Regions from separate parts of the Homo sapiens genome. Here region 2 is linked to region 1. The links come from fine-mapping of genetic effects on gene expression. A gene starts in region 1. The other region holds a variant in brackets. All regions are shown on one strand. Distances are between the middles of the regions.

The links. PIP is the estimated chance that this variant, and not a neighbour inherited with it, causes the effect.
Region 2: its variant is fine-mapped to the expression of ENTPD1-AS1 in Th2 cells (Schmiedel 2018, PIP 0.95).

What each region holds. Positions count from the first base shown.
Region 1 is chr10:96,081,342-96,097,077 of GRCh38, reverse strand. It overlaps ENTPD1-AS1 (ENTPD1 antisense RNA 1), which reads left to right and starts at 6,843. Exons shown (of 6, transcript NR_038444.1): 1 at 6,843-7,096; 2 at 7,771-7,812. RefSeq lists enhancers at 6,694-6,743, 6,754-7,123.
Region 2 is chr10:95,885,277-95,901,012 of GRCh38, reverse strand. All of the region lies in intron 2 of ENTPD1-AS1 (ENTPD1 antisense RNA 1), which reads left to right. Among named protein-coding and RNA genes, the nearest start is that of CC2D2B, 15 kb to the left of the region's middle. RefSeq lists silencers at 4,634-4,834, 15,313-15,472. The variant C/TATTATTATTATTATC (reference allele first, on the strand shown) is at 7,098.

The sequences.
Region 1 (15,736 bases):
CACACATTTGAATAATACAAATGATGTGAGATTTCAGTGATAGATATTTACAGTGACAACTTTTACATCTTCATCAGGGTAATTGCTTCTGTCCTCTAGATCATCCACATTTTTATGTTCACACAATCTCTAGGTAACTCATCTTTAAACATTGCTTCGAAGACTTCCACAAACTGGATATGGAAACTAGTATGTGATCCTTTGAATAGGTACCACCAATAGCTATACTACTATAGTATTTCTCATGATGACCTTGGTTAAATCTTAATCACATTTATTCAGATGATTGATATTTTATGCCATATTTTTTGCCCAAATTAGCCAGAACCATCAAAATCCATAAGGAAGTATTTTAAGGCTGTAGATGTATTAAAGTAGGCTACCTGCTATTTTTGTTTTTGTTTTACTTTCGTATTTTAACAGAATAAAGGATTATTGCTTTTTCATGTCCCGGTCCAATATGGGTTAACAGACATAATGAAAGGGTTCTACTCCATGCAGTCATTCAGGGACCTAAGTTTTTAATATCTAGTAGCTCCACCTTCCCCAAGAAGCAGAGTCCTCTGAATTCTCCACACCTGGCCTTCAGAAAAGGAAAGTAGAAAAATAAGTCAATATCCATATTTAACCACTACAATCATGACACCCATCACTTCTCACATTCCACTGGTGACATCTAGTCATATAATCTTATCTAAGTACAAGGGGATCTGGGAAACATAGTCTAGCTGCGTGCCCAAAAATAACAGGAGGAAACTGATATTGGTTGTCACTACTGATTTCTATCACAGTTGATAGAAAGTTGTATTTTTCAAGTGTTTATTTCTAATAGCCACCTCCTTTTAGCATGAATAATGTCATGGCTGTACAACTGTTTTAGCAGGTTCACATTCTGTATTAGTTGCAAGTTGCCTTTGTTTGCAAGTATCAGAGACCTAATGCAAAATAGCTCAAATAAAAAGGAGGATTGGCCGGAGTGGTGGCTCACGCCTGTAATCCCAGCACTTTGAGAGGCCAAGGTGGGCAGATCACCTGAGGTCAGGAGTTCAAGACCAGCCTGGCCAACATGGCAAAACCCTGTCTCTATTAAAAATACAAAAATTAGCTGGGCATGGTGGCACGTGCCTATAATCCCAGCTACTCAGGAGGCTAAGGCAGGAGAATCACTTGAACCTGGGAGGAGGAGGTTGCAGGGAGCCAAGATCATGCCACTGCACTCCAGCCTGGGTGACAGAGTGAGACTCTGTCCCAAAAAAAAAAAAAAAAAAAAGAGGACTTATTCGCTCACATAATAATCAAACCTCAGATAGGAGAGGGATAGAGCAAATCTTAGGGACAACCAGAATAACAATGGGATTCTCTCTCTTTCTGATCTATTATTTTTTCCCTGCATATATTTATTTATTTAAAATATAGGAGATATGCATTCAGATACAAACATGTTTCTGAAGGTGGGAAATTGGTGCAGTCACATTGGAAAATAGTCTAGTAGTTTCTGAAACGGTTAAACATACCTTTACCACAAGACCCAGTAATTTTACTCCTAGGAATATACCCAAGAGAAATGAAAACATATGTCCACAAAAAAATGTGTACATGAATATTTATAGAAGCATTATTCACAATAGCTAAAAGGAAGAAACAACCCAAATGTCCATCAACTGATGAATGAATAAACACCCGGTGGTATATCCATTAATGGAATATCTGGCCACAGAAAGAAATGGAGTACTGATACATGCTACAGTATGGATGAATCTTGAAAACATTATGCTAAGTGAAAGAAGCTAGACCCAAAAGACCCAAATTATTGTATGATTCCACTTACATGAAAAGTCCAAAGTAGGCAAATCTATACAGACAGAAAGATTATGGGTAGCAGATATGGGGGATTGGAGAGATACCTAAAGGTCGTGGGGTTTTTCAGGACAATGGAAATGTTTTAGACTTGATTGTGGTGATAGATGCATAATTCTGTGAATGCTAATAGCCACTGAATTTTACACTTTAAGTGGGCAAATTGTATAATGTGAATTATGTCAATAAAATCATTTAAAAGAACATGTAGACATGGACGACAGGTAAAATGAGCATGGCTGTGTTCCAATAACATTTTATTTATAAAAACAGGCAACTCACCAATTGGCCATCATTTTCTGACCCTTGTTATAGAGTAATAAAAACTAATTTTTTAGCTGGGCACTGGCTTACCAGAAAATAAAATACCACCTTTTCCACATGTCTTGCAGAGGATTGTGTGTAACATTTGGGAACTATCCTGAAATGAAACAATTGTGCTTTTCTTTGAATCCCCTAGTCTTTCCTGTTCACTGGAATGGCTACAGCTCTAACAGCCATCTTAGATCATGAAATTACCTTGGAAAATGGACACCACAGATAGTGGAGCAACAAGATAGGAGGAGCCTGGAATCCTCACCCCATGAATAACTGTACGAACTCTAAATTGATTTCATCTAGATGTCTTAAAAGAAAAAAAAATTAATTTATGTCATGTTTAAATAAACTTATTTTGAAAATTTCTATTACTTCCTCATAGCTGAACATAATTCCAACTATTATACCCCTTAAGGAATTAAAAAAACAGCTATACCTCCTGGAAGGATCAAGTGGATGCTAAAGGAAGCTCAAATCTATGTCTGTCTTTTTTTTGTTTTGTTTTGTTTAACAGCAATTCATTCTTAATATACTGGCCTTTTAAGCTGGAGTCTTACAACTACTTGAGTTCATATTTGTAAAAAAGATGTAAGAGGATATATTCTCTGATTAGCCAATCCTGTGTTAACTTTAAAAAAAATCAAATTTCATAAATAGAAGCAGTAACATATCCCTTATCAGAATAGTTCCACTGTTTACTAAGTCCCTGTAGCTAAGTACAAGCCCCAGGGCTTAGCCCAAGTCCTGATCACTATGTACACAGAGTCTGTTGTGGGTTTCCTCATGAGTTCAGTAGTGTGAACATTAGCGTGTGACATCCTCTGCTCTGCAGAACACAAAAATAACAGGGTCCTCTGGGTATCCAACTTTCCTTGACAAGATTAAAGTAATGTCTAAAGAGCTCTAAAAGTGTCACAAACGATCTATAGACATCATATTTACATTTGTTCATAAAGATACAGGGCTGCAAAGTCACCATAGCATAACTTCTCCTTAAGAGTGTGAGACATAAACACAGACCTAATGTTCTCATGACCGCCCCTACCCAAAAAAGGTATCTCTGTGTTGCAGAGTCACACTCTGTGATGGATTGAACGTTTGTGTGCCCGTCAAATTCATATGGTAAAGCCCTAACCCCCGCTGTGGCTATATCTGGAGATGGGGCCTCTAAGGAAGTAATTAAGATGAAATGAGGTCATAAGGGTGGGTCCCTGATCTGACAGAATTAGTGTCTTATAAGAAGATACACCAGAAAGTTCTCTCTCTTTCTCTTCCACGCCTCTTCATCTCGAGTATGTACCGAGGAAAGGCCATATGAGGATATTGTGAGAAGGCAGCCAGCTGCAACCCAGGAAGAATGCCCCTCACCAGAAAGCAAATTGGTCAAAACCCTGGTTTTGAACTTTGAGCTTCCAGGACAGTGAGAAAATAAATCTCTGTGTGTAAGCCACTCAGTCTATGGTATTTTGGCTGTGTCAACAGACTAATACACACTCCAAAAAAAGAGTGTGTAGAAATTTTTGTTTCAGCGTCATTTTCAAATTGTCCTCTGCTAAAATCTACTTTAATCCCGGCATGGTCATAAGCTGGTTTTACACTCTAGACCTGCTTGAAACTTAAACTTGGCTCACTCTCACGGGTGATTTTTAGGTTCGTTGGATGCTGCAACTCCTATGACACACAGAATGATCAAACATGGATTCCTGGGACTTGGGACTTTTGGTACTAAAGCAGGGAAAGTCCAAGGGCACTGGACAAGTTGGTCACTCTAGATAGGCAATACATTCTGTTCCTCCAGCTATTGCTCCATCTACAGCTATGGCTTCTCTAACAATCCATACCATACAGATTCTCTCCATACACAAGAGTCAAAAAGGTCTCAGGCCAACTTTCTCTTTTTTTCACGTGGCCCACATCTGCTGCACGAGAAACACTCAGGCATCATTTGCCTTGACAAACTACGGCAGTGACTACAGATCCCAACATAGCAACTTTCCTTCACTCCTATGCCAAAATTCTCACTGGCCCATCTCTCCTACCCCTGGGATTTCCCAGATGTGAGTCACGATACTACTGTACCTCTCAAAACCCAGGAAATGCATGTCAAGTTCTCTGAGTATTGCTATTGAAGCCCCCTTCACTAGACTTGAAGGTGACTGGGGAAGCATATAACAATGGCTCTCCCCAAAACTTCTCCTCATAAACTCATCTCTTTCAACATCTTCTTTTAACCCATGAAACTGGTGAAAGGTTCCAATAGCGGCAAAACCAGTTCTTGGACTGTGGCTGCCAATACAGGGAGCAAAACTGATCAAGGGCTCTAGATGCTTGCTGCACTCTGAATTCCCTGGCCACATTTTCACCCATGGGCTGCTCCAGCCGGTGACTGAGAGCAGCACAGATAATAAGGCAGGCTGGCTCCTGAAAGAAGGACTCCTCTGACAGGTGATTTTGGCTTGAGGATTTCCAATAGCCTTTCTAAATCTTGCTTAGACTGTTTGGCAGTCCAGGAAACTTCCACCACCCTTCCCTCTCTCTCTGCTTTACTCAATTTCAGACTTGCAGCCTCTCCCAGTCTTGCTTGGCTCCCGCCCATTCTCTCTCACAGGTGTTTCCTCTAATAAAATTGTTGCACATTTAATCCCATCATAACAACTTCTCATCAGAGCCAGACTAATGTAAAGACATTTCTTTGGAAAACATGCATCTTGTCAGCACCTCACTTTGGCGTTTCATAGTTGTTGCTTTATAATGCTGCAGGCAAAACTTCCAGTTTATAGTTATACTACTAACCACAGGATGAATGAATGACATGGTAAGATAAAAAAACAGGAAAAATGATGGGATTTTACTTTACATTTCTTGTTGTTCAACCCCTCCATTTTTGTTAAAATATATGTCTAATTTGAATGCGCATCAAGATGAATTTTTAGTAAGACTTATCACTGTGGGTGCTGAGTATGTGAGCAGGAACATCATAGATGCTAATTTACCTTTTAGTAGGCAACCAGGCCTGTGCCAGGACTTGGATAAGAAGGCTGTTACATGCTACCCTGGAGTTCCAAAGTAACCCCAATATCACCATCTGTCTTTGTTCCTCCACATTTTCTTCTTCCCGTGATCCCTTCTCATTTTTCCTTTCTATCTTCTTTTACTTGTTTTGTCACTGCTTTAGAAGTCACTAATAAGCAATAGTGGGAAGTAGAGTATGTGAATAAAGAATGAAGCTTTCTTTGGCAGTCTGAAATAAATTGCTTAAAACTGTACCCCAAAGCAGCCAGAATAAAAATAGCTTTTTATATTTGTTCTCCACCATTTCAAGTATCCAAACGCCCCACATGACTTGACCCCTGCAACTTTGTTTTAGGGAAGACTTTTGGTGGTAGCATACTCTCATACGAAAGTGTGTGAAAAACATCAATTTGCTTTTTTACTTTTCCTGTGAGGATTATAGAACCAAAACAAAATATCGAAAATTTTGAGAATACACTGACTCACAAAAATCCAATGCTTTTCTAGTCAAACAGGATTTCTCTACGTGATTTGTATCAAGGACGGTCATTTATCAAAATGTGACAACATGCCTTTGCCGTCATTATAACAGCAGGCAATTAAAAATGTTTTTACCATAGCCAGTTTGCTTATTTTTCTATTTTAAAAGGGTTTTATAGCAGATATGCAAAAGAGAAAGCAGAGAGAAAAAAATAAAATCACTCTCTATTCAAACACTATCACTGTTAATTTTGATGTATTTCTTGTGTTTTTCTAGGCATAATTTGTTTTTACAAAAACATAGCCTTAGTGGCTAGTCCCACTTTATTATGTGAGTACTGGTCAATGCAGAAAGAAGACTAAACAAACTACAGATTGGTTTTCAGTCATATTCTAAAGAAACAGAAGCCAAACAAACACTTGGTCTGGTGGAAAGTCCAAGATTATGGTCCTTGGCCCTCTGTTAAGGCCAGCTAGAGTATCTGGTGATGGTGAGAGGCCTCCAACTGTCTTAGTCCTGGATTTAAAAGGGCCTAAACGGAGCTAAAATGTTCCCCAGAGCCTAGCAATCATTGACAGTTTCCTCAGGTAACCAGCGCTGCAGACGGAGAATGCTGCAAAGGCAAGGTGTCAGAAACCAATTGAAATCCGAGGTTCAGCCAAGGGGACCCAGGCACACACGTGGGCCTTGTGTTCACCATAAAGAGCATACTGGCTACAAGTTGGCCCCTCTCTGGGCAACAGAGTGCCTAACTTAAAGGGGCTTACGAGGATGCCATGCGCCAACAGCTCTGGTTTTACAAAATGGAGTCACCAGGGAGAACGCGGTGTCTGGGTTAGACCACGTTCACCAAGTACCAGCTATACGATCTCGGACAAATTTACTTGCCCTCTCTTAACCTTAGTTTCCCCATATATAAAATGTAAGTGATACATTTCTGACTGCTGGGATTGTAAGGAAGGGATTAAATGGCTTGCCAATGAGGTGTTCAGCACAATGCCTGCCTAACACGTAAAACGTGTTGGGGTTGGTTGGTTGTAAGACCCACAACCTCTCTCCCCACTCTACCCCCGCCCCGCCACCAGCAGCCCAGCTGCAGCCGCTTCCGGGAACCACTTCGCTTCGGTCTCCCACTGCCGAACGCGGATCCCTCCGCGTTGCGTCACTTCCGGGAGACTCTGGCCGCGGCGATTCAATATATCCGGAAGCAACTGTCATGGCTGCTGTCAGTGAGGGCCCGTAATGGAGATCGAGTCAAGGGTTGCCCAGGGACACTTAAGAGCCTTCGGCTTCAAGGAGGCCTCTCAAAGGACAAAGGATGAGACTGCCTGGCGGCAGAGTGCCCCCCACAATCGTAGGAACTGTGTCGCCGCGCTTCCCGTTAACTTGCCGCTAAGTTTTTCTAGAAAAGTCGCCCTTCTTGCCAGGGTGGGACCTCACTTCTGACCTAGCCCTTCTTTGTGTACCAAGTTTTTGTTTCCGTCATTTCCCGCAGCCCGGGAGCTCGGCGGGCGATACTGTGGTAGCCTGGGAGGAAGGGGCGGGCCGGATGCTGGAACCGAGAGAGGTGGGGCTCGTCGAGGAGTCACGGGCGGCCGAGGCTGGAGTCTCCTAAATGCAACCTTGAGCTGTTCCACCCTTTGGTGCTTGGTCTGTTAGCTCGAGGTGCTCCTCACCGTGGAGGCGTTTAGAGCTGGTCATAAGGCTCTTACCTGCTGACCCAACCACCCTCAACCACAGCTTGCCCTGCTCCAGATAGACTTTGATCCTAGAAAATATCTAAGATGGGTGTAGTGCAGTATGTTATTGTTTTAAGTCTCAAACATAAGCAAACTATTATTAAAAGTTTTAGAATTAATAGGCAGAGTTCACATATTGGGTCGTGTTATTGTTTTAAGGTTTAAATTTAGATAACATGTTAGTACTTGTTGAGATTTTAACAAAAGCATTAAAAAAATGAGAAAATAGATTAATCTTTAGAATATTTTAAGTTTGCTACTGCGCAGTGGTAACATGAAGACACCTCATAATAAGTCTTTGATTACCAGAAGCTTCTGAAAGTAAAATTATGGGTATATTAATGTGAGTTTTCCTCTCTGCAGGGTGTCCTATAGACTTTGTCATGGAGTGAAACAGAAACAAATGTGAGTTAATCATTAACATTTCCTAGTGGTTAAAATTACTTTTTAAGCGCTTAACTGTGTATTTTTTAGATTGAAGATTTCAAATGAAATTTTGATTTGACTGAAATATTTAATATGTGATGAGTTGATATTAAAATACAGAAGATTACTATTTTTATAGAAACAATAATGTAGAAACTAATATTTGAAGCAGGTTTACTCCACATACTGTGTTATAATTTAAATTTTCACTTAAACTCTCAAAATCAGAAGAGCTGACCTAGTAAGGCTTAAACCTCTAAAACTTGTGGTTTTAACAAGGCTTAATATACGTAGTTATAATAGTTTTTAAAAAAATTGTTATCAAGTTCCTCAGGTGATTCTGATATAGTATTTTAAAGAAAGCAAAGAGAAATGATCTGTTTATACATTTTAAATATTTTGTTCCTTATTTATGTATTGAGACTGTGCTTATAAATGCATTCACACGCATTGAAGTACATAATTTGATCGTCATGCCAGCCTGGAATCTTGCTTTTTGTATGGTTTCTTGCAGGTAGGTCTATTGGGTTCTTGGCATAGTACCTGGACAAAACATTGTTAAGGTGGAAATTTTCATTGTATTTATCACTTCAAACACTTGACCAGTTTATTTAGTTTTCAAGCGCTTTAGACAACTATATGTGGGCTTGACTTAGTGTATAATAAATGTAAAGTTTGATCTCAAGTAGTTGACATTTATGGAGTATTTACCATATGCCAATCTTTGTGATAATTGCTAGACATATTTTATTTAATGCTTACAGCAGTACTGTGAGTTAGGTTTGTTAAATCCCTGTTTTAATAGATGGAGAAACTGAGGCAAGGACGGATTAAGTTACAAATCCGTCTTTGTAACTTAGAGCCATCTTCTTACCTACTTGTTTTGTATGACACCCTTTTCCTCCATATAACTGAACACTGGTAGAAGAGTGAATGACTGTAGAAAACAGACCTGGACTCTATTCTACCTGTCCAGCTTTGTAAACTAGGGCAAGTTGTGTGACCACTCTGAATTTCATTTTCCTCACCTATAATAAATGAAAACTTTGAACTATTATGTTTTATTGAATCTTGAATCATCAGAAATCCTTAAGGCTGGGTGTGGTGCTTCACGCCTGTAATCCCACCACTTTGGGAGGCCCAGATGGGAGGATTGCTTGAGGCCAGGAGTTTGAGACCAGCCTGGTCAGTCAGCATAGCGATATCCCATCTCTACCACAAAAAAAAAAAAAAAAATTCCTTAAAATGGTGCCTTTACCATCAAACCTGGGATTTTCTTCCAAGCCCCTAGTGCTCATTCTGAGTTTTGAAGTTTTGATGCACGGCAGTGCCAACTCCATCTCCATTGCCGTCTAGTCTGATTACATTGTAAGATGTGACTGATTTCAGAGATGTCAAAATGTAAAATAATGTGCATCTTGGAACTAATGAGCTCTTTTTCAACCCTGACTCTGTAACATCTGTGACTTTTTAACATTTTATTGCAGGATTAAGTATTTTTGAATGTAAATGATTCAAGATAACACATAGACTTCGTTTGATGACATCTGCAAAATAAATTTTTAAAAAATTTGGGCTTCATGATAATGGAAAAGTAGAAACTATGTTTGTCTTTATCACCTGTGAATCCCCCATATTGAGAACATGCCTGGCACATAGTGAGTGTTCAGTAATCATTTACTCAATGAAGTAAACAAGTCTTCATTTCTTTTTTCTTTGTTTGAGACAATCTCACTCTGTTGCTCATGCTGGAGTGCAGTGACGCTATCTTGGCTCACTGCAACCTCTGCCTCCAAGGCTCAAGTGATCCTCCCGCCTCAGCCTCCCAAGTAGCTAGGACTACAGGCACACACCACCGCACCAGTTAATTTTTGAATTTTTTTGTAGAGACAGGGTCTTACCATATTTCCCAGGCTGGTCTTGAACTTCTGGGCTCAAGCCATCTGCCTGCCTCAGCTTCCAAAGTTCTAGGATTACAGGCATCAGCCACTGTGCCCTGCCACGTCTTCATTTCATATTACAAATACAATATTAAAAAATTGTGTTTGACTTGAATTAGACATAAAATACACAGTCATGCATCGCTTAATGACAGGGATACATTCTGAGAAATGTGTTGGGTGATTTTGTTATTGTGCGTGTACTTACATAAATCTACATGGTATGGGCTACTACATATCTGTATGGTATGGCGTATTGCTCCTAGGTTACAAACCTGTATAGCATGTTACTGTACTGGATACCATAGGTGGTTGTAACACAATGGTATTTGCATATGTAAACATGTCTAGACATAGAAAAGGTACAGTAAAAATATTATAACTTTATGGGACCGTCAGTGAAATGTCATTATGTAGCACATGACTGCAATAGTATTAATAGTGTAAAACTATTTTGCACTGAAATTTTTTGCATTCAGAAGTTCACTGTTGTAAACTGTCTTTCTTTCCAAATATCTTTTCTTCTGCTGATTATTGCTGATTGTCATCAAGTATGGGGTATATTTTGTTCCTCGAAGAGTTATAGTAAAAATTGAAATGCTGGCTTATAGACTTTCCAACAAAGAATCTGATTTATTTTTAAAGTGGCCAAAGTATAGGAACATTATTTAATTTTTAGAAATCTTGATTGTAAAAAAAGTTTTAAAAATGTGATTTGATAGCTTATTTAATTTTTGTGAGTATTCTGGAGGTGATTAGGCATACTATCTTTCCTAGTATACAAATAATATTGAATATTTCTGAGTTATGAACAATAAAAATAAACTACAATTGAAATTATGTCATAATTGAAATTATGTCAGTGGGCAGAAAAGTGTTCCAAGTTTTTGGGTGGGCAAGTGTAAGAATAATGTTAACAGGAGAAATTATTCCAACCGTAATTATGGATGTCTAATAGTCTGTACTTTCGGTTAGAACCAGGAAGGTGGCACAGGAATAATTATAGAGTTGTAGACTGTTCTCTGTAGATAATCAGCTGAGTTTTGTGCTGTGGCCAGAAAAGCCAGTGTGTGAGGTATCATCAGGAAGGGATTTGGGAAAATTAACAAAAAAAATGTTACCCTCAAATAACACAGTGTTTTAACTAAACATGAGATACAAGAAATTATTTTATATTCATAATCCAGATGTTAAAAATCGTTTCAATTGTTAAATGTGATTATGGCTATAATTTTACTTACATAATTCTGTAAAGGGTATATGCCTGTATATTCAATTTTTAAAGACCAAATATAGGAGTAAAATCATTTACATAATTACAAAAATTCCTGCCACTAAAATAAAACTCTGTACCACTTGATAGCACTTCATTACTGAGTGAACATTGACCATGAACATCTTGGAATTTTCACTATCAATTTCCTTTTCTCAGAGTCCTTTTTTACAGAAAACACAAAGTTTTTATTCTTTAGTTATGCCTGTGCAGTAATGAGGAGGGAATAGTATTCACTTCTGTTAGTACTTACTTCCTTGCACAAACTTTGTAATGTATACTTTACTGAGTTCTCCAAACCCAAAGGAGAATAAGGCCAAGGGCCTATAATAAATTATTTTATGAGTCCAAAAAAGTAATTCATTTTATGATGTTTTCACAGAAGTTTATGCTTATTAATCAAAGATTTCAAGTTTAAAGAACTGAAGGAGAAGTGATATCATTAAATTTGGAGCAAATATGTTCTTTCAATAATTTTTTAAGTACCTAAGGATTGTTTTGTACTACCCTGAAAATTGTTTTCCTTTAAAGTTTTTATTATTTCCACACCGTTTTTCTCCATCTTTCTGTTTTCCTGTAAACGAATAACAGTAAACCCCCCACCCTAACAAAATGTGAATTCACCTAGGCTGAAATCATAAGATATATTCACTTTGTTTTCCCTACTTTTTCTACATGTTCAAGAATTTATATCAAATACAGATTAATTTGAAAATTTGACATTTGGAGATAATCTCAGTGACTAAAAAGAATAAAACAGGCATGGGACACTTGCAAGGAGGAACAGAAACAAAATTTTAAAACCCTCTCATTACTTAACCTACAGCAAAGATGAATTTATAAGCATCTCATTTAAACTCTAGGGTAAGTAAATTTTTAAAAAGTTTTTAGAGAATGAGGAATACAAAGGGATTTTGCTAATTTAAGACATCATCGTTTTTAGTTTAGTGTACTGGGTAAAGGATTTTCCAAGTTAACTAACAACTTTATTCTCCAAATCCTGAGTTTTTACTTTTGGGTGTCAGCCATGACTACTTCTCATCAGGAGTATTTAAAAATGTTATCCTACCAGTTGGTGAAAAAATATCACACCTCCTTTCTAATCTTTATTGGAAAATCTCCTTTTCTTTTCTTTTTTCTTTTCTGTTGAGGCCTGGTCTCGCTGTTGCCCAGGCTGGAGTGCAGTGGCGCAGTCTCTGCTCACTGTACCCTCTGCCTCCCAGATTCAAGCGATTCTCCTGCCTCAGCCTCCTGGGTAGAGGGGATTACAGGCACCCGTCACCACACCCAGCTAAGTTTTGTATTTTTTCAGTAGAGACAGAGTTTCACCTGGTCTCGAATTCCTGACTTCAAGTGATCCACCCCGCTCGGCCTCCCAAAGTGCTGGGATTACAGGCATGAGCCACCGTGCCCAGCCAGAAAAAAATCATTCTTTATAGTCAAAGCTTAAATGCTTCATGACCCATCTTCATAGGAGAGTATTCTTTTTATGCTCTGTTCCCTGATTTGGTGACTGTGAGAACTCTTATATAACATTTATGAAGTGCTTACACAGCATTAAGAGATAGGCATGAAAAGATGACTACATCTTGCCTCAGCCCTGCAAGTACCTATGGGAGAGTGACATTTAAATGTATACATGTAGCTAGGTGTGGTGGCTCATGCCTATAATCCTAGCACTTTGTGAGGCTGAGACAGGAGGATCGCTTGAGGCCAGGAGTTCAGACCACTGTGGGCAACATAGGGATCTCATCTCTACAAAAAATAAAAAAAAATTAGCCAGGTGTGGTGGTTTGCAACTGTAGTCCTGGCTGTTCAGGAGGCTGAGGTGGGAAGATCACTTGAGCTTAGGAGGTCAAGGCTTCAGTGAGCTGTGATTTTGCCACTGCATTCCAGCCTGGTGACAGAGTGAGACCTTGTCTCCAGTCGATCAATCAATCAATCAAAAAAAAAATACATAAAGTATGAGCCATACTGTGGTGGACGTATGTGTAGGGGTAGAGAGAGGACACAAATGATCCTTCGAAAGGGCTTCAGAGATGCCATGACATGTGAAATAGCCAGGCTTCTTTGAGAAGGCACTCTAAACAGTTTGATGGCTGTATTTCTCAGCAGGAGCAGTAGTAACATTTTGGATAGGTCAGGTTGCTGTATTGTCATTATACTCTCTTAAACATCGCAAGATATTTAGCAGCCTTGGGTCTGTGGTCTTTTCCCACCAGCTAGCATCAGTTGGATCTGGGGAGAGCAGCTGGCATCCTTCTTTAGATGTGCTTATACAATATGACTTTATTATTTTCTGAACTTCCTGTCCCTGCCATTCCCATTCATTTCATTTCATTCACTGAAGACTTTGGCACCTGGCTTATAGTTACCCTCTTCTCCCCAAGTCCCACCTTTATGACGGTCACTTCAAATTCCATGTGGTTAACTAAACCAATATCCTGGCTCTCAACTGCTTGACCTCAAATTTAGTGACCTTTACCTTTTCATGAAGCCACCCAGTCTCTGAATCTTATAATTATTTATGTCAGCAGCTACACCCTTAAAAACTTAAAAAACTCTTCTGCTCTTTGCCCATTTTTCTAGCTTTTTAGCTGAATGACTTCCAGTGCATCTGTACTTCAGCTTCAAGAACTCCAATCCCTTGGCTGTTCTCTCTCCCAGTCAGCTTCCATCACTTCAACCATTACACTCTTGCACCCTTTTCCCTCTGTTAGACCTACCGAGTAAAACACAACCCTAGGTCAGAAATTATAATAATAGCTAACATAAACTGAGTGCTTATTGTATTCCAGACACTCTTCTGAGTTTACCTGGTTTGTCTCCTTTAATATTCTCAATGGCGCTGTTATCTCCATTTTGTGCGTGAGGAAAGTAAAGCTCAATTTTCTGTCTACTGTAGTAGGGTATAAACCCTAGAAGTTTGCCCTTAGAAAATGTGCATTTAACCACTTATTTAGCCTGCGTTTCAAAACAGCTGTCTTCTCTGCTTCCCCACTTGGACTGCTGTACTGTTTTCAGGACAGAGTAGGTTTGGCTAGGTGGAGAGTGTTGAAAGCACTCATCTTAAACCTTGGCTATGTAACTAACCCTTTTGGTAGGCCTCTAGCCAAGCCAGAAAACAGATAAAGAGGGAAGTAACAGTGATTAGGTATTCAATGTCACCAGCTGCTTCTGGGTGTCTGTAGACAGAGGGAGAAGAAAAGCTAAAGAGAATAGGTATCAGTTTGGGGATTGAGTGTGATGTCACCTTTGCCTGATGACCTACTGAACATTAGAGACTGAACTGACTTAAAATTGGTAGAATAAGCATGAGAGAGTCCTCCATTTGTTTGTTTGTTGTTTTTAATTTTAGGTGAGTCTGAGTGATTATGTCATGTATATGTATGTCATGGCTGATGGGCTGAGGACCTCCATTGCCCTCTCCGAGGCTTGGCTCAGCTGGCCTGGAGAGATGTGCTAGGGAACATGCACCCTCTTGTTACCTTCCATCTCTATCTGTTTTGAGAAAACCACTCTAACTAGTCTTTGCTGTGGATTTCTCTCTCTAGATGTCCTTCCTTTTGTTCTGGATTTGTTGACGCTGACATTGTCACTTGAAGTGACAGGGTAAAGCTTTTGAGAGCTGATTGCTTCAGTTATTAGGTCACCTGTGGGACTCTCTAAGTACCGTCATGCATCACTTGACTGTGGTGATATGTTCTGAGAAATGTGTCATTAGGTGAATTCACCATCATGTTTATTTACACACACATAGGTGGTGTAGCCTACTACACACCTAGATTGTATGGTATAGCCTGTTACTCCTAAGCTACAACCCTGTGCAGCATGTTGCTGTACTAAATACTGGAGGCAATTGTAGCACAATGGTGAATATTTGCATTTCTAAACATATCTAAACATGGAAATGGCACAGTAAAAATACAATATAACAGTTGTTTTTGTTTTTTAATACACCTATATAGTGCAGCTCCATTTTAATCTTACGGGACCAGCAGTGTATATACTGTTCATTGTTGACTGAAACATTGTTATGTAGTGCATGATGACTGTAATTAATTTAGGGCTTTGTTTTGACAATGGTTTTGTTTGTTTGTTTGTTTGTTTTTGAGAAGAGTCTGGCTCTGTTGCCCAGGCTGGAGTGCAATGGCGCGATCTTGGCTCATGGCAACCTCCGCCTCCTGCGTTCAAGCGATTCTCCTGCCTCAGCCTCCTGAGTAGCTGGGGCCACAGGCGTGCACCACCACACTGGGCTAATTTTTGTATTTTTAGTAGGGACGGAGTTTCACCACATTGCCCAGGCTGGTCTTGAACTCCTGTTTTCAGGTGATCTGCCTGCCTCAGCCTCCCAAAGTGCTGGGATTACAGGTGTTAGCCATTGTGCCGGCCTTGACAATGGTTTTCATTTTCCTGTACACAAAAACTTTCCTGTCACCATTCTTAGTCCCTTAAAGAGGCAAACTTTTATTTTCTAGATATTTAAAATAATACCAATAACTTCCTATAATTTTCAGATTCACCATAATTTCTGCATGTGATACTCACATAAATGTATTTCCACCACAATTTTGAACGTGAATTTAAGTCACTCAACTTAATTCTCACTCACAAGAGATAAGGCAGCCTCTGGTGGCAGGGATTTTTCTTAGAAACCCCTTTCTGCTCGAAAGACTTCTTAGAGAAAAAT
Region 2 (15,736 bases), 200 kb after region 1:
GAACTGTGTGCATACTCCTGCGTAATTATCTTCAGTACACTGATAACATACTTTTACTTTGCAAATTAGGAGTGGCCTCAAGGGGCAGTTAGGATTGGTGATATATAAAAGTTCTCTAGTATCAAGTCTTCCTCTAGATGGAACTCTTCTATCTAGGTAAGAGTTCTAGTTTCTTATCTTGCTCAGTAAGATGCCAGCCTTATTGTCTAATTGGCTTTAAGAAAAAATAGTGACTGCTTACCAAGTGCTAGATACTGTGGGTTTGCTCTTCATATCTGTGGGCCTCTAATTTGTATGGATCCATTCTTAAGCAATATAAAACACCAGCACATCAGATTCTTGTGAGAGAGTAGAATCTAGAATTGTCCTTCCTAACTTTTTCTCAGAAGTTTGGCTGAAAGAAGTATTATTGCAGAAGGTCATTTAAAGACTGTGCAGTCCATTCATCACTCCCTATGGATCAAGCTGGACCACTCAGACTTATGTACTTGGACTATATTACATTAATTACTTAAAGCATTAGTTTCAGTGAGTCATGCCAGGGTGATTTTGTCCACCAGGAGACATTTGACAATGTCTGGAGACATGTTTGATTGTCATAACTTGGAGGGTCTGGGGAGGGGGTGCTCTTGGCATTCAGTATGCAGAGGCCAGGGGTGCTGCTAAATGTCCCACGATGCACAGGACAGCCCCACAACAATGTTTCACCCCAAATATTAGTGCCCAGTTGAGAAACCCTGATTTAGATGGTCAAGGAGCCTAAGGAAAGGTACAAGACACAGAAAGAGGAACGAACTTAAGGTATTTGTTGGACTGTAAGGAGAGCTGCCGGACTGGAGAGTGTTTCCAGGTGGGATCTGTGGTGAAAGGTAAGACTCAATATATGGATAAGTCTGTGTGTATACGGCCTTAAAGAATCACAGTAGATTTGAAGTTTATCCTGTAATGACAGTAGCATTTACAGAAAGTTTCTGTTGGAAATAGAAAAAAAATGGAAAACATATGAGTATAGAAGAAAAACAATTGAAATTCCACTTTTAAAAGTGATATATTTTCCTTCTCCTTACCCCTTCAAAAATAAATCAGAATAACACTGTATGTAAAAGTTTTGTGATGTGATCTTTATGTAACATTTTGAGGATTTTTCCTTATTAAATAGTCTTTGTGGCCAGGCATGGTGGCTGGTGCCTGAAATCCAAGGACTTTGGGAGGCCAAGGTGGGAGGATCACTTGAGGCCAGAAGTTTAAGACCAGCCTGGGCAACAACATAGCAAGACCCTATCTCCAAAAAAAAAAAAAAAAAAAAAATTAATACCTGGGTAGGGTATTGCCTACCTGTAGTCCTAGCTACTTGGGAGGCTGAGGAAGGAGGATCCCTTGAGCCCAAGAGTTCAAGAATACAGTGAGCTATGATAGCACCATTACACCACATCCTAGGTGACAGAGTGAGACCTCATTTAAAAAAATAATAATCAATTAGCCAGGCGTGGTGGTGGGCACCTGTAGTCCCAGCTACTCGGGAGGCTGAGGCAGGAGAATGGCGTGAACCCGGGAGGCGGAGCTTGCAGTGAGCCAAGGTTGCGCCACTGCACTCCAGCCTGGGTGACAGAGTGAGACTCTGTCTCATAATAATAATAATAATAATAATAATAATAATTTTGAGAAATGTGATTTTTAACAGCAACATGATATTCCAATGTGTTTCTATTATACATAATGTTGCAGTGAATGTTACGCCCAAACTCTTTTTCCCCAATATTTCTGATACTTGCCTTAGGATAATTTCCAAGACATGAAATCACTGAGGCAAAGGATGTGAATATGTTTAGGCAATTTGTACAGCTCTAGTTAGTTAAAAGCTTGTCAATATTCTTATGCTATGACATTTTCACCAAGTCTTTTTATTGTCTTATGTTTTTTCTCTTCCTTGTTCTATGTTTAATGTTAACATTTTATCTGTATTTTATAACCTTATTTTTCATTTTTCATCATAGACAGTTAATCAGAGACTTACTCCAACCCAGAAGTTTATACCAAAAGACTTGATTAGCGCAATAAAAGCACTAAATGAGGAGCTCGGATTAATTATTGATTTAACATACACCACAAGATATTATGAAGTTAAGGTAAAGTTGCAAATGTATATTGTTATCATGGGTAGGTCTTAAAATAGAAAGTTTGTTTTTTGTTTTGTTGTTATTTTGTTTTTTTAAGACAGAGTCCTGCTCTGTCACTCGGGTTGGAGTGCAGTGGCGTGATCTCGGCCCACTGCAACCTCCGCCTCCTGGGTTCAAGTGATTCTCCTGCCTCAGCCTTCTGAGTAGCTGGGATTACAGGCGCCCGCCACCACGCCTGGCTAATTTTTGTATTTTTAGTAGAGGTGGGGTTTCGCCATGTTGGCCAGGCTAGTCTCAAACTCCTGACCTCAGATGATCTGCCCACCTCGGCGTCCCAAAGTGCTAGGATTACAGGCGTGAGGCACCACATCTGGCAAGAATTTTTTTTTTAATACTGCACTTGGAAAGTGAATTAAGATATTCTCTTGGTTATTTTAATATTAATTTCAGAATTGCCCATGAATAATCTCTTAGCAATGTTTTTAGTCCTTCATATACTCATACAATATTCTTTTTCTAAAAACCATTGGTTGTGCAAAGAGGAAAAAAAACACTGAACTTATCCTTTTAAAAAAGCAAAATAACTAGAAGGAAATATAGTTGCAAATAGGAAAAGTGAAAAAGGGACAGAGAAACAAAAGGAGGGAAAGACAGCAATATGATGAAAACGGAAGAAATAAAAACGTAAGTGAGATGGGTATTACAACAGTAATTTTTGAACTTTAACAGAGAAATCTTTCAATTAAATCTTGCTCCGAAGCCCGTTATATAAAGCAGATATGGTAAGTGGGGAGTTGGGTTGGTTGAAGCAGGGGATTGAGGATCCAGACTTAGTCCACTTGACATGATAATTATTCTCCTTCCTTCACTTTCCACCCACAGACTAAGGGGCAGAAGGACACTTCGAAGAGCAGAATTTTAAAACCCTGCTCTAGAGGAAAATAATTTTTAGACCTTATGAGAAAACTAAAAATTGCAGTGACAAGATATGAAAGCATCTGTCTTAGCAGTTCACATGAAAAAGTGGAATTTTACTAGATGCAGTATGATGCCAGTGATTAAAAAGCTAATGCACTTTTAAAGTCTGATATTTTAAAGTTCCAGATTTAAGTCAAAGGAAATAGTAGTTTTACTATGCATGTGGATGGTTCTACCATTTTTCAAGTGTTGAGTTCAATGGTAATACTAAATTTTCTTTCTTTTTTTTTTTTTTGAGATGGAGTCTCGCACTGTCGCCCCAGTTGGAGTGTAATGGTGCGATCTCGGCTCACTGCAAGCTCCGCCTCCCGGGTTCATGCCATTCTCCTGCCTCAGCCTCCTGAGTAGCTGGAACTACAGGTGCCCGCCACCACGCCCGGCTAATTTTTTGTATGTATTTTTAGTAGAGACAAGGTTTCACTGTGTTAGCCAGGATGGTCTCGATCTTCTGACCTCGTTATCCGCCCGCCTCAGCCTCCCAAAGTGCTGAGATTGCAGGCGTGAGCCACCGCACCCGGCCTATAATACTACATTTTAAATCACTAAAAATTCAAGATGGATAATGACTGAGTCTCATGTCTCCTATAATATAGTAGTAAGACAGTTAAATTCTTTCAAGACTTCAGTTTTTGACCTCCACAAAGACAGCAATTAGAAATTGATTTTCTGAGGTCCCCTTTGGCTCCAAAATGCAATGATTAAAGTTTTCATTGACCCTGCTTACTGCCTTTATAGAAATAATTCCCAATATGTGGAAAGGGAATGCAGAGAATCTTAAATGGGACATAATCACTACAGTTGTTTGTATTTGGAGTATATAGAATTAGAGCCAATGACAACAAGGTGGATTTTTTTTTTATTGTTTAGTTTAATACTTTTACAACCTTAATTTTAAGGGATAAGAGACCATTTTCAGCTTAGGTGTTGATAGTGCTAGAGTTTCAAAGTGTGGAATATGTGATAAAGGATTTTTATGTAAAATTAGACATAGTATTAAAACCAGAGCTAGACAGTAAAGAAAGCAGTAAAAAATAGATTTTACTCAGGAACTATTGGAATAAAGTAAGGGACTTGAGTATAGAACTGTGCTCAGTTCTGAAAAGAAGAAGAATAAGGGGGGATTCATACCAAGGAACAGAGTGGGGTCGGTGGATGGAAAATTCCTAGGAGGAAACATCAAGGTAAGAGGTAATTCTGGTTAAACAGACCTAACAGGATTCTTGCTGAAGGCAGGCCAGGATGATCAGACAACACCTCGGGGGCAATGGAGGATGAGGAATTTGATCAGATATTGAAGGAGGTCAGATATGAGGATGGGATTCTTACAAAACTGACTTAACAGGATTCTTGCTCTTGAGGACAAGGCCCAAGTACCGGGCCTAGTAGAGAATGGGCTCAAAGGAACCTGACTAAATTTTGCTTAAGGAGAGTCTTTGTCAGTAGTCATCATACTTAAATTGTTTATTTTTGCCAAGTACCTCTTACCAAAGCTTTATAAGCATTTAATTGTGCTTCTCATTATGAGAACAGATAAAAGAAAAGGCTATTAAAAGAAAAGGAATTGTTATTAGCCAATTCATAAAGTAGGAGAGAGTTGTTAGACCCAAGATTTCAGAGTAAGAAAAAAAAAATGACGCCACTGGGACTTCTGCTTTCAGATAAGAGGAAGTAACAGGGACCAGATTAACCCTCCCACCTGAAACAACAAAAAAAAAAGTGAAGAAAATATATGAAACAACAATTTCCAAGAAGTTGGATATCAGGCAATGAAGGACAGTGATCTCTGAGAAATGTTCCAGCTTGCTGCCTTGAGAGAGTTTCCAGGTCATGGTGCAGAAAGTGGGAATCATGATGGAGCAAGTCACTGCCAAGTTAAGGGGACAGAACTGAGACGCCTGGGAAACCAAGGCAGCTAGCACTGGACAAGAGAGTACTGCCCAGGGAGAGTATTCTAGGGTACTCTTTACCAACCCTCAGATACTTTCCTGGAATGCAGAAGGTTTCCCTGCATTTCAGGAAAGTACCTGAGGCTGGAGAAAGAGCTACTCTAGAAGATTAGAAGGAACAGTACTTGGAGCTCACTTAGGGCTGGCAATAGGGACTTTTCCCACCAGCCATTATGAGGTTATGGAAAACCTCATAATTCACAGGATACTGGGTAGCATTCAGAAGAGCCTTGTCTCAATAGTGGGAAATAATGAGCCCTAGACTAAACACTACTCTGATCTATGGAAAACCTCATAATAGTAAGGAATAATGAGCTCTAGACTAAACACTACTCTGATCTATGGAAAACCTCATAATTCACAGGATGCTGGGTAGAGTTCAGAAGGGCCTTGTCTCAATAGTGGGGAATGAACTCTAGACTAAACACTACTCTGATCTTACCTAATAAGTCTTAACAGCGAGACCTGAAAGGATCAAACTGTTTCCAAGTAACTGCTTCCTGAAACAAAGCTTAAGAGTATTTGTAGGAATCCAAAAAAGATACAGTCCTATGAGTTTGGGTTACTTTTCTCCTTCTAATTTTTCTGTTTCTGTTCTGAAAATGTGGGAGGTTGCATGGGATAATGAAAAAAGTATTAGATTAGAAATCAGGAGAGCTGAGTTTTTGTCTAGTTCTGCTACCGACTTACCATGTGACCATGGTCAAGGTTTTCTTTTTTCTTGTCACAAGTGACCCCAGTACATGGAGGGATTTGGATCAAACAAATTCTGAAAAATTCTTAAACTCTAAAATGAAATTGTCTTCAGGCCTTCTATATTTGCTCAAAAGAATCAGGAACACTAAAATGCAGAAAAGATTACTTGATTCTACTTAGTTTTACTAATTGTTTTATCAAGCATAAGGGATTCTAATTTGTTACAAAAATTTAAATCATTTAAAATCAATTTGTGAATTTCTCTTAAAGTTAGTCATTTACTGGATAAACCAAATTATATATGATGTTTATTCATTTTAATATTTTTTATTTCAATAGTTTTTGGGGAACAGGTGATGTTTGCTTACGTGCAGAAGTTCTTTAGTGGTGATTTCTGAGATATTGGTGCACCCATCACCCAAGCAGTGTACACTGTACCCAATGTATACTCTTTTATCCCTCATCCCCTCTCCCAGCCTTTCCCCCAAGTCCCCAAAGTTCATTGTATCATTCTTATGCCTTTGTGTCCTCATAGCTTAGCTCCCACTTATGAGTGAGAACATACGATATTTGGTTTTCCATTCCTGAGTTACTTCACTTAGAATAATGGTCTCCAGTTCCATCCAGGTTGCTACAAATGCCATTATTTCATTCCTTGTTGTGGCTGAGTGGTATTCCCTCGTGGGTGTGTGTGTGTGTGTGTGTTTGTGTGTGTGTGTATACACACCACATTTTCTTTATCCACTCGTTGATTGATGGGCATTTGTACTGGTTCCATATTTTTGCAGATTTTGCAATTGTGAATTGTGCTGCTGTAAACAAGTGTGTGTAAGTATCTTTTTTGTATAATGACTTCTTTTCCTCTGGGTAGATACCCAGTAGTGGGATTGCTGGATCAAATGTAGTTCTACTTTTAGTTCTTTAAGGAATCTCCACACTGTTTTTCATAGTGGTTGTACTAATTTACATTCCCACCAGCAGTGTAAAAGTGTTCCCTTTTCACCACATCCACACCAACATCTATTTATTTTTATTTTTTTGATTATGGCTATTCTTGCAGGAGTAAGGTAGTATTGCATTGTGGTTTTGATTTGCATTTCCCTGATAATCAGTGATGTTGAGCATTTTTTCATATGTTCGTTGGCCATTTGTATATCTTATTTTGAGAATTGTCTATTCATGTCCTTAGCCCACTTTTTGATGGGACTGTTTGTTTTTTTCTTGCTAATTTGTTTGAGTTCCTGTAGATTCTGGATATTAGTCCTTCATTGGATGCATAGATTGCAAAGATTTTCTCCCACTCTGTGGGTTGTCTGTTTACTCTGCTGATTACTATTATTATTATTATTATTATTATTAT[C/TATTATTATTATTATC]TTGCTGTGCAGAAGCTTTTTAGCTTAATTAAGTCCCATCTATTTATCTTTGTTACATTTGCTTTTGGGTTCTTGGTTATGAAGTCTTCGCCTAAGCCGATGTCTAAAAGGGTTTTTCCAATGTTATCTTCTAGAATTTTTATGGTTTTAGGTCTTAGATTTAAGTCTTTTATCCATCTTGAATTGATTTTTGTATAAGGTAAGAGATGAGGATCCAGTTTCATTCTTCTACATGTGGCTTGCCAATTATCCCAGCACAATTTGTTGAATAGGGTATCCTTTCCCCACTTTATGTTTTTGTTTGCTTTGTTGAAGATCAGTTGGCTGTAAGTGTTTGACTTTATTTCTGGGTTCTCTCTTCTATTCCATTGGTCTATGTGCCTCTTTTTATACCAGTGCCATGCTGTTTTGGTTATTATGGCCTTATAGTATGAAGTCGGGTAATGTGATATCTCCAGATTTGTTCTTTTTGCTTAGTCTTGCTTTGACTATGTGGGCTCTTTTTTGGTTCCATATGCATCTTAGGATTGTTTTTTCTAGTTCTGTGAAGAATGACAGTGGTATTTTGATGGGAATGCATTGAATTTACAGATTGCTTTTGGCGGTATGGTCATTTTCACAATATTGAATCTACCCATCCATGTACATGGGATGTGTTTCCATTTGTTTGTTGGTTAGGTATTTAACATACCATATAATTCACCCACTTCAAGCATACAATTTAATGATTTTTATTAAATTTACCTATTTATGCATCTATTACTGTACATCAGTTTTAAAACACTTCTATCTCCCTAATAAGAACCTTCATGTTCATGAATTGTTCATTCCTATTCCCCCACCCCAGGCAACAATTAATGTAGTTTCTGTCTCTAGAGATTTGTCTCATGTGGACATTTCATATAAATGGAATCATACAATATTGGTCTCTTGTGTTTGGCTTCTTTCGTTTAGCATAATGTTTTTGAGGTTTGTCCATGATATACAGCATATATCAGTAGTTCATTTGTGTTTTTGCTGAATAATAGTACATTATATGGATATACCACATTTTGTCTACCTATTCATCAGTAGGTGGTGTGAAAGGAAAATTAATCTTGGGGCCCCAAAATCACTAAGCTAAAGGGAAAAGTCAGGCCTGGACTGCTTAGGGCAAACCGGCCTCCCATTGTATTCAAAGTCACCCCTCTACTCACTGAGATAAATGCATATCTGATTGCTTCCTTTGGAGAGGCTAATCAGAAACTCAAAAGAATGCAGCCATTTGTCTCTTATCTACTTATGACCTGGAAGCCCCCTCCCAGCTTTGAGTTGTCCCACCTTTCCAGACAAAACCAGTGTTCATCTTATATATTTGATTTATGTCTCATGTCTCCCTAAAATGTATAAAACCAAACTGTGCTCTATCTTGGCCACATGTCATCAGGACCTCCTGAGGCTGTCTCACAGGCACATGTCCTCAACTTTGGCAAAATAAACTTTCTAAATTAACTGAGACCTATCTCAGATATTCAGGGTTCACAGTGGACATTTCAGTTGTTTCCCATTTTTGGCTACTGTTAATAAGGTTGCTAAGAACATTCATATGGAGGTCTTTGTATGGATATATGTTTTCATTTCTCATGGATTGATATCTAGGAGTGAAATTTCTGGGTCATATGGTAAATTTATATTTAACTTTTAAACAAATTGCCCAACTATTTAAGGTGAGTTTAGCCTTGCCAATATTTGTTATTGTCTATCATTTTTATTTATTATTTTAGTGGGTTTGAAAGGGTATGTCATTGTGCTTTTAATTTGCATTTCCCTATTTATAATTTGCATTTTGTATTCCTGAGTGGCTTTCTGCCATTATCCCATTTAGATTCATTCTTTACAATAAAGCTTAAGATTATTGGCAATAGAATTTAATTATCACTATAAGAATAGATCACTACCCCATTTCCCTTTTTATTAGTCTTTGCCTTATTCTTAGAAAAATTTTCCTTTTTTTTTTAAAGAAAAAAATCTTTCATTTCTACAGAATGTGATTCCTTTTTAGCTCTAGGATCTCACTGTCCCTATCACTTTCCTCTCTGGCATCTTAAATCTCCCTTGCCGCTTTCCTCTTACTTTCAAATATACCTAGAAGTATTCTGTTGGTTTCTATTCTCTTGTATGAACTACTATTCCACTTTCTTGTTGTGCCTATTGTCAAACATTTGAAAACACCTTGGCTGTGATCACCACCTCCATTTCTTTACTGTCCCATTCTCTTCTTAAATGTGTGGTTTGTTTTCACCACTTAATGAAATTGCCTTCTCAGAAATCACCAACAATCTAGCCAAATCCTGCAGCCTTTTCTTTGCAGCATCTGGCATCTACACATACAGATTGAGAATGCCAAATCCAAATATCTGAAAATTGAAATGCTCCGAAATATGGAACTTTTTGAGCACCAAACTGACACTCAAAGGAAATGATCATTAGAGCATTTCAGATTTCAGATTTTGGGATTATGGATGCTCAACTGGCATAGTGCAAATATGCCAAAATCCACAAAAATCTGAAATCTGAAACACTTCTGGGCATTATGGATGAGGGATCCTCAACCTGTACTTATATTTTTTTATTTTGAACACAGTAATTATCCAGGTTTGCCTCTTTTCTGATAGCTCTCAATCACTTTGGTTGTCTCCTATTCTTCTCACTGTAGAGGTTTTATAAAACTCTTTCTTTGGCTTTGCTTTTATTCCCATTCTCTTGTCACTTTGGCTGTCATGTCTGCCAGATGACCCCTAAATGTTTCGCATACCTCAGTTATGTACAAAATCCCCACTTCTCTAAGGAACACTTTCTTTTCAAATCACAGGTCTTTGGGATAGTTTATATAGCTCATAAAAAGAATGAATGTTTTATGTATATTTGTTTCTTTGACACCATATCTGTTTTGTTTGCATTATGATCTTTCAGTGTTTCATAAGCTAAATAAAATCAAACCAGAAACTGAATTTTGCCTGAAAGCTAGGGATTTCCTTCTCAGTATTTATTCAGGTATTCTGGGAGGAAAATTTATTGGTTCCTAATTTCTTATAAGAGCTGCTTGATAAAATGTTCTCTCCTTATAGTCTTCTTCCCTTTGCAACCTTTTACTTGTGCTTGTTTTTAGTCCCTACCTAAAGAAATGTTCTTCCCAATAGATGACATCTGAAAATTAACAATACCAGAAAATTAACTCTGGGGATCTTTTACTAGAATTCATATAAGTCATTTTCTGAGCTCATGTCAACATTAATATCCATCTAAGGTTGTGATTGCTATTTATAGATACTAATATATAATTTTTCCCTGAGAAGATTGCTTTTATAACATGCCTGGATGTCAGTTTTCTACTTTATGAAACTAAGCAACACTGGAACAATTCAAAAATCTTAGTGTCTTTTAGCCTAAACTCAGTGGCATATTCCTAAAGAATACTTTCCATTTAATTTTATCTTCTCTAATGAAGATAATGGTATTCATGCAACATCTTTTATATGCTGTATGGTACTCAAGCAACATCTTTTATATGCTGCTTAGCAACTCTGTTAAGCACCTCTATGTGCCAGGCATACAGCTCAACACTAGACCTACAGAGGTCAGAAGGAGCCCTTGCCTTCAAGGAGATAGGTAAGTAAACCAGCAAATAGACACTTTATCCATTCCACAAGTGTTTATGGAATACCTACTGTGTCCTGGCACTCTGCTTAGCTCTGAGGATTCAGCAATGAATAAGACAGGTGTGAAAATAAGTAATTCAAAATCTAAGCTGTTGGAACTCCAAACTATTTTGATCCTTAAAGAAATGTGATTATGGGGCCTGAGTCACGTTACAAGCAGCTGTAACCTGGGAAGCTGTAATCTTTGTTTCTATGATTATAGATTAACCTTCCTCCTTGCTTACATTGTTGTACAAAATGTTACAAATGACTAAAGGGCTCCAGGAAAGACCCCTTCCCTGTTACTGTTGATTTTTATTATAGATTAACTTCCCTTTTAGTTTCTCACCCAAAGGTTTCATGGCTATCACACCGTGTTAAGATGGAGTGTTAAATACCTCTTTTAAATCAGAAAGGAAATGAAAACCAACTGTAAAGAAAACAAGCCATACAGAAAAGAAACTCATAAACTAGCGTTCTAGAAAATGTTATAAACCTACTAAACTTCTTTGTTTTCTGCCTATATATGCAATAATTTAACTTTGAACTTTGGAACACTGACTCTATTTCTCTGGAGTCTGTGTCTCCCAAATGGCTATTCCCAGCTTTTTACTTGAATAATCTCGACTGGATTTTGATCCTTTTGATTATTTCAGGTTAACCCAGACCAGGCCATGAAGATTGTAAATCTGTGTGGGCTTGCAAGGCCTTATATGATGGGATTTTGCACTTGCTGTTTCCTCTGCCTAGAATGCTTTATCTTTGCATGGCTCGGTTCAAATGTCACCTTCTCAGAGGGCCAGCCTTCCATGACTGTCTTATTTAGTGCTGTTCCTCTCTTCTAGTCACTGTTGATTGTATGATCTTGATTTCCTTCAAAGCACTTATTACTATCAGAGATGATGTGTGTACTTGCTTTTGGTCTGTCCCTCTTGAGGACAGGGACTTTGATTGATTTGGTATCTCTAAGTGTTTAAACGGTATCTGGAATATTTTGGGCACCTAAAACACATTTGATGATGGGATGAAACAACGAATGTGTGGATGGTGCTGGAGAAAGGCATTCAACAAATAAGGCAATTTCAGATAGTGAAAGTATGGGTACTCAGAGAAGGTTAATGGAGAAGTGGAGTCAGTATTCTGATGTCTGAGCAGAAATGTAAAGGAAGAGTTGGCTAGGCAAAGAAAACAATGTAAGCTGGATCACAGAGGTGTGAAAGCATGGCGCATGGGGGATTCACAAGTAGTGAGAATGCCTAGATTATAGGTTCACCTAGGGGCAGATAGCAAGGGTGAGAGCTCCAAGGAGCTGACTTGTCTTACGAAGATTTGAATTGCAACCTAAAGGCAAAATGTAGTCACAGAGGCATTTTATGTAGAAGTCACATAATAAGTTATGTATCTTAGATCATTCTGGCACCAGAGAGTAAGATAGATTCGAATAGATAGGTTACATGTAGGAAAAAAGGTATTTTCCCTGCTCTCACACAGCTACTCAACACTTCTGACTCCAGATGTGTGGGGATTTTCCCACAAACATCAAGCAGTTCTGCTATGTACACCATCTGGGTGTCCGCTAATTCAATTCTGTTGACACTATCTACCTGGAGATAGCATCAGATCCCATAGGTTGAGGACTTAGTCTTACAAAACTGTCCCCCACTTCAGATGCCAATCACAAGCCCCAGGTTGCAGTCTGTACTTCTGACAACTATAAATCAGAGTTCCCACAACCCCTCCTAAATCATTCTATTAATTTCCTAGAGTGACTCACAGTATGCGGGGAAACACTTATGTTTACCCATTCATTAAAAAGGACATTGCAAAGGATACAGAGGAACAACCAGACAAGAGATGCACAGGGCAAAGTACGCGGGAAGGGGAGCCAGGCTTCCATGCCCTTTCCAGGCAAGCCACCTTCTAGGAACCTCCGCATGTTCAGCTATCCAGAAGTTGTCCAAACCCAAGCCTTTTGTATTTTTATGGAAGCTTCGTTAGGTAGGATGATGGATTAAATTACTGGCCATTGGCAAGGAGATTAACCTACAGCCTTTCTCCCCTCCCCAAAGGTTGGGGGATAGAGCTGAAAGTCCCAACACTTTAATCCTGCCTTGGTTTTTCTGAGGACCAGTCCCCGTGCTGAGGCTATCAGGGGCCCCAATCACCAGTCATCTCAGTAGTATACAAAAGGCACTCTTACCACTCTGGAGATTCCAAGGGTTTTGGGAGTTGTATGTCAGGAAATGGACTATGACCAAATATATGTTTCACAGTATCGAAGAATGGAAGTAGGTTGGGGGCACAGAGATTAGTGTGGGAACAATTACAGAAATTAAAGGAAAAATTAATTAGGGGCCTAATCTAAGGCAGTGGCAGAAGAGATGGTGAGGAAAACAGTTGAAGATTTTTAAAGAGAGACTTATTAAAATAATGGCAAAGAGATGTAGGTGAGTGAGTTGGGGGGAAGAATGGGTTGATTCCCAGGTTTCTCACTTGGTACCAATCACCCAGGTTGATGCATTAAGTAGAGAAGAGATAATTAGCTTCACCAGCTCTCAAAGTCATTGAACTGCTGGGGCACAGGTGCCTGCAGTTGTGTACGTAGTCCTTTGGCTAAAATCTGAAGGATAACCCTCGTAATGCTTTAATGAAACACAGCTTTGCTCATCTTGGCAACCTGTGCTGACTGCTGTCTATAAAACTTCTAGCTGTACCAGTTTGGGTGTAAGGATATGGTGTTTGTCTTCTAAGAAATCTTAGCTACTGGCCAGGCACAGTAGCTCACACCTGTGATCCCAGCACTTTGGCTGAGCCAGGAGGATCACTTGAGCCCAGGAGTTCAAGACCAGCTTGGGCAACATAGGAAGATCCCACCTCTACAAAAAATAAAAATTTAGCTGGGTGTGGTAGTGTGTACCTTGGTCCAAGCTACTTGGGAGGTTGAGGCAGGAGGATCACTTGAGCCTGGGAGGTTGAGTGTGCAGTGAGCCATGGTGGTGCCACTGTACTCCAGCCTGGGTGACAGAGTGAGACTCTGTCTCTCAAAAAAAGAAAAAGTCCTGGGTACCTATTAGAGAACAAAGTTATTCCCTCAACAGGCAATTCAGATGCTTATTTTCTTTTGTTCCTAGAATAGAGTTTTGAACTTAATTATACATTAGAATTTATTATGACATTTTTTTAACCTGATGTCTGGTCCCATCCAAGAGCAATTACATCAAAATTAAAAAGTGATCATTTCATGTACCCATGTCTGAGAACCTTCTAGATTCACTGCCCTCATGAATCAGAGTTCTATTTTACATCCCTACTTTTTGGGTTGATACTTGGACCAGAGAGGAAATTGGAAATTTGAGTTTGTGATCAGTGCCAATGGGTTGATTTTCCATTGCTGCTATTACAAATTATCGCAAATTTAGTGGCTTAAAAAACCTTACAGTTCCGTAGGTTAGAAGTCCAACGAGGGTCTCAGTGGGCTAAAATCAGGTGTCACCAGGCCTGCATTCTTTCCTGGAGGCCCTACAGGGGATTTGTTTCCTTGCCTTTTGCAGCTTCTAGATGCCACCCACACTTCATGGATATTGGCCCCCTTCCTTCATCTTCAAAGTCAACAACTTTGCATCTCTGTGTAACTTTCACCCATAGTCACATCTCCACAGCCAGAAAGGTTCTCCAGTTTTAAGAGCCTATGTAATTAGATTGTAAATATGGACCAGCTTTGACTAGCCATTTTAGGTCAAATACTACTTCGGTTCTTCATAAATATTTGTTGGACTGAATTGAAAATATGAGGTTTAAGCGTTTGTCTAGTTTAAAAGGATGACACTGGTCTTGGGGACCCACAAATGACTACTTTTGTTGTTTTCCCACTGTCTAGCTTTAAGTGATCTGTCTTTTCTGGGAGTCATTTTTTTTTTTTTTTTTTTTTTTTTTTTTTTTTGAGACAGAGTCTCACCCTGTCACCCAGGCTGGAGGATAGTGGCACGATTTCGGCTCACTGCAACCTCCACCTCCTGGGTTCAAGCGATTCTCCTGCCTCTGCCTCCCAAGTAGCTGGGACTACAGGCACACACCACCATGCCTGGCAAATGTTTTTTTTGTATTTTTAGTAGAGACAGGGTTTCACCATGTTGGCCAGGCTGGTCTCAACTGCCTCACCTCAGGTGATCTGCCCACCTCGACTTCCCAAAGTGCTGGGATTACAGGCATGAGCCACAACACCTGGCCCACTTTTCTTTTCTATAAAATGAAAAATTTGGATTTGATGATTGCAAGGTCCCATGAACATTTAAAATACGCTTGGGTACTTCTAGGACCCAAATATTGGTTACATACTACTGCTTACATGATTTTGATTTTCTGTGAGGCTGTAGAGCTAACATGAAAATAAACTGCCTGAAAATTTTAAGAAACACCTACCAGGTCTGGGTTCCAACGAATGATAGCTGAAAAGGAAATTCAGGTGTCTAGGTAAGCTACAGCTCAGAAAGAGGAAAGGCTTGTAGAGGGTGAGTATCAAGATATTTCAGACTAGAGGGCTGGATGCAGTGGTTCATGCCTGTAATCCCAGCACTTTGGAAGGCCGAGGTGGGTAGATCACCTGAGGTCAGCAGTTCCAGACTAGCCTGGCCAACGTGGTGAAACCCTGTCTTTACTAAAAATACAAAAATTAGCCGGGCATGGTGGCAGGCGCCTGTAATCCCAGCTACTTGGGAGGCTGAGGCAGGAGAATCGCTTGAAGCTGGGAGGCAGAGCTTGCAGTGAGCCAAGATCATGCCATTTGCACTCCAGCCTGGGCAACAAGAGCGAAACTCTGTCTCAAAAAAAAACAAAAAAACCCAGATATTTCAGACTAAATGTAGTCCTCAGAAAAAGGCAGGTCCTGCTCAAGTAATTTGGAGGTCAGTATTGGAAAGAAAACTAGAGTTATCTGGGAGGATTTATTCAAACTGGCCAGAAATA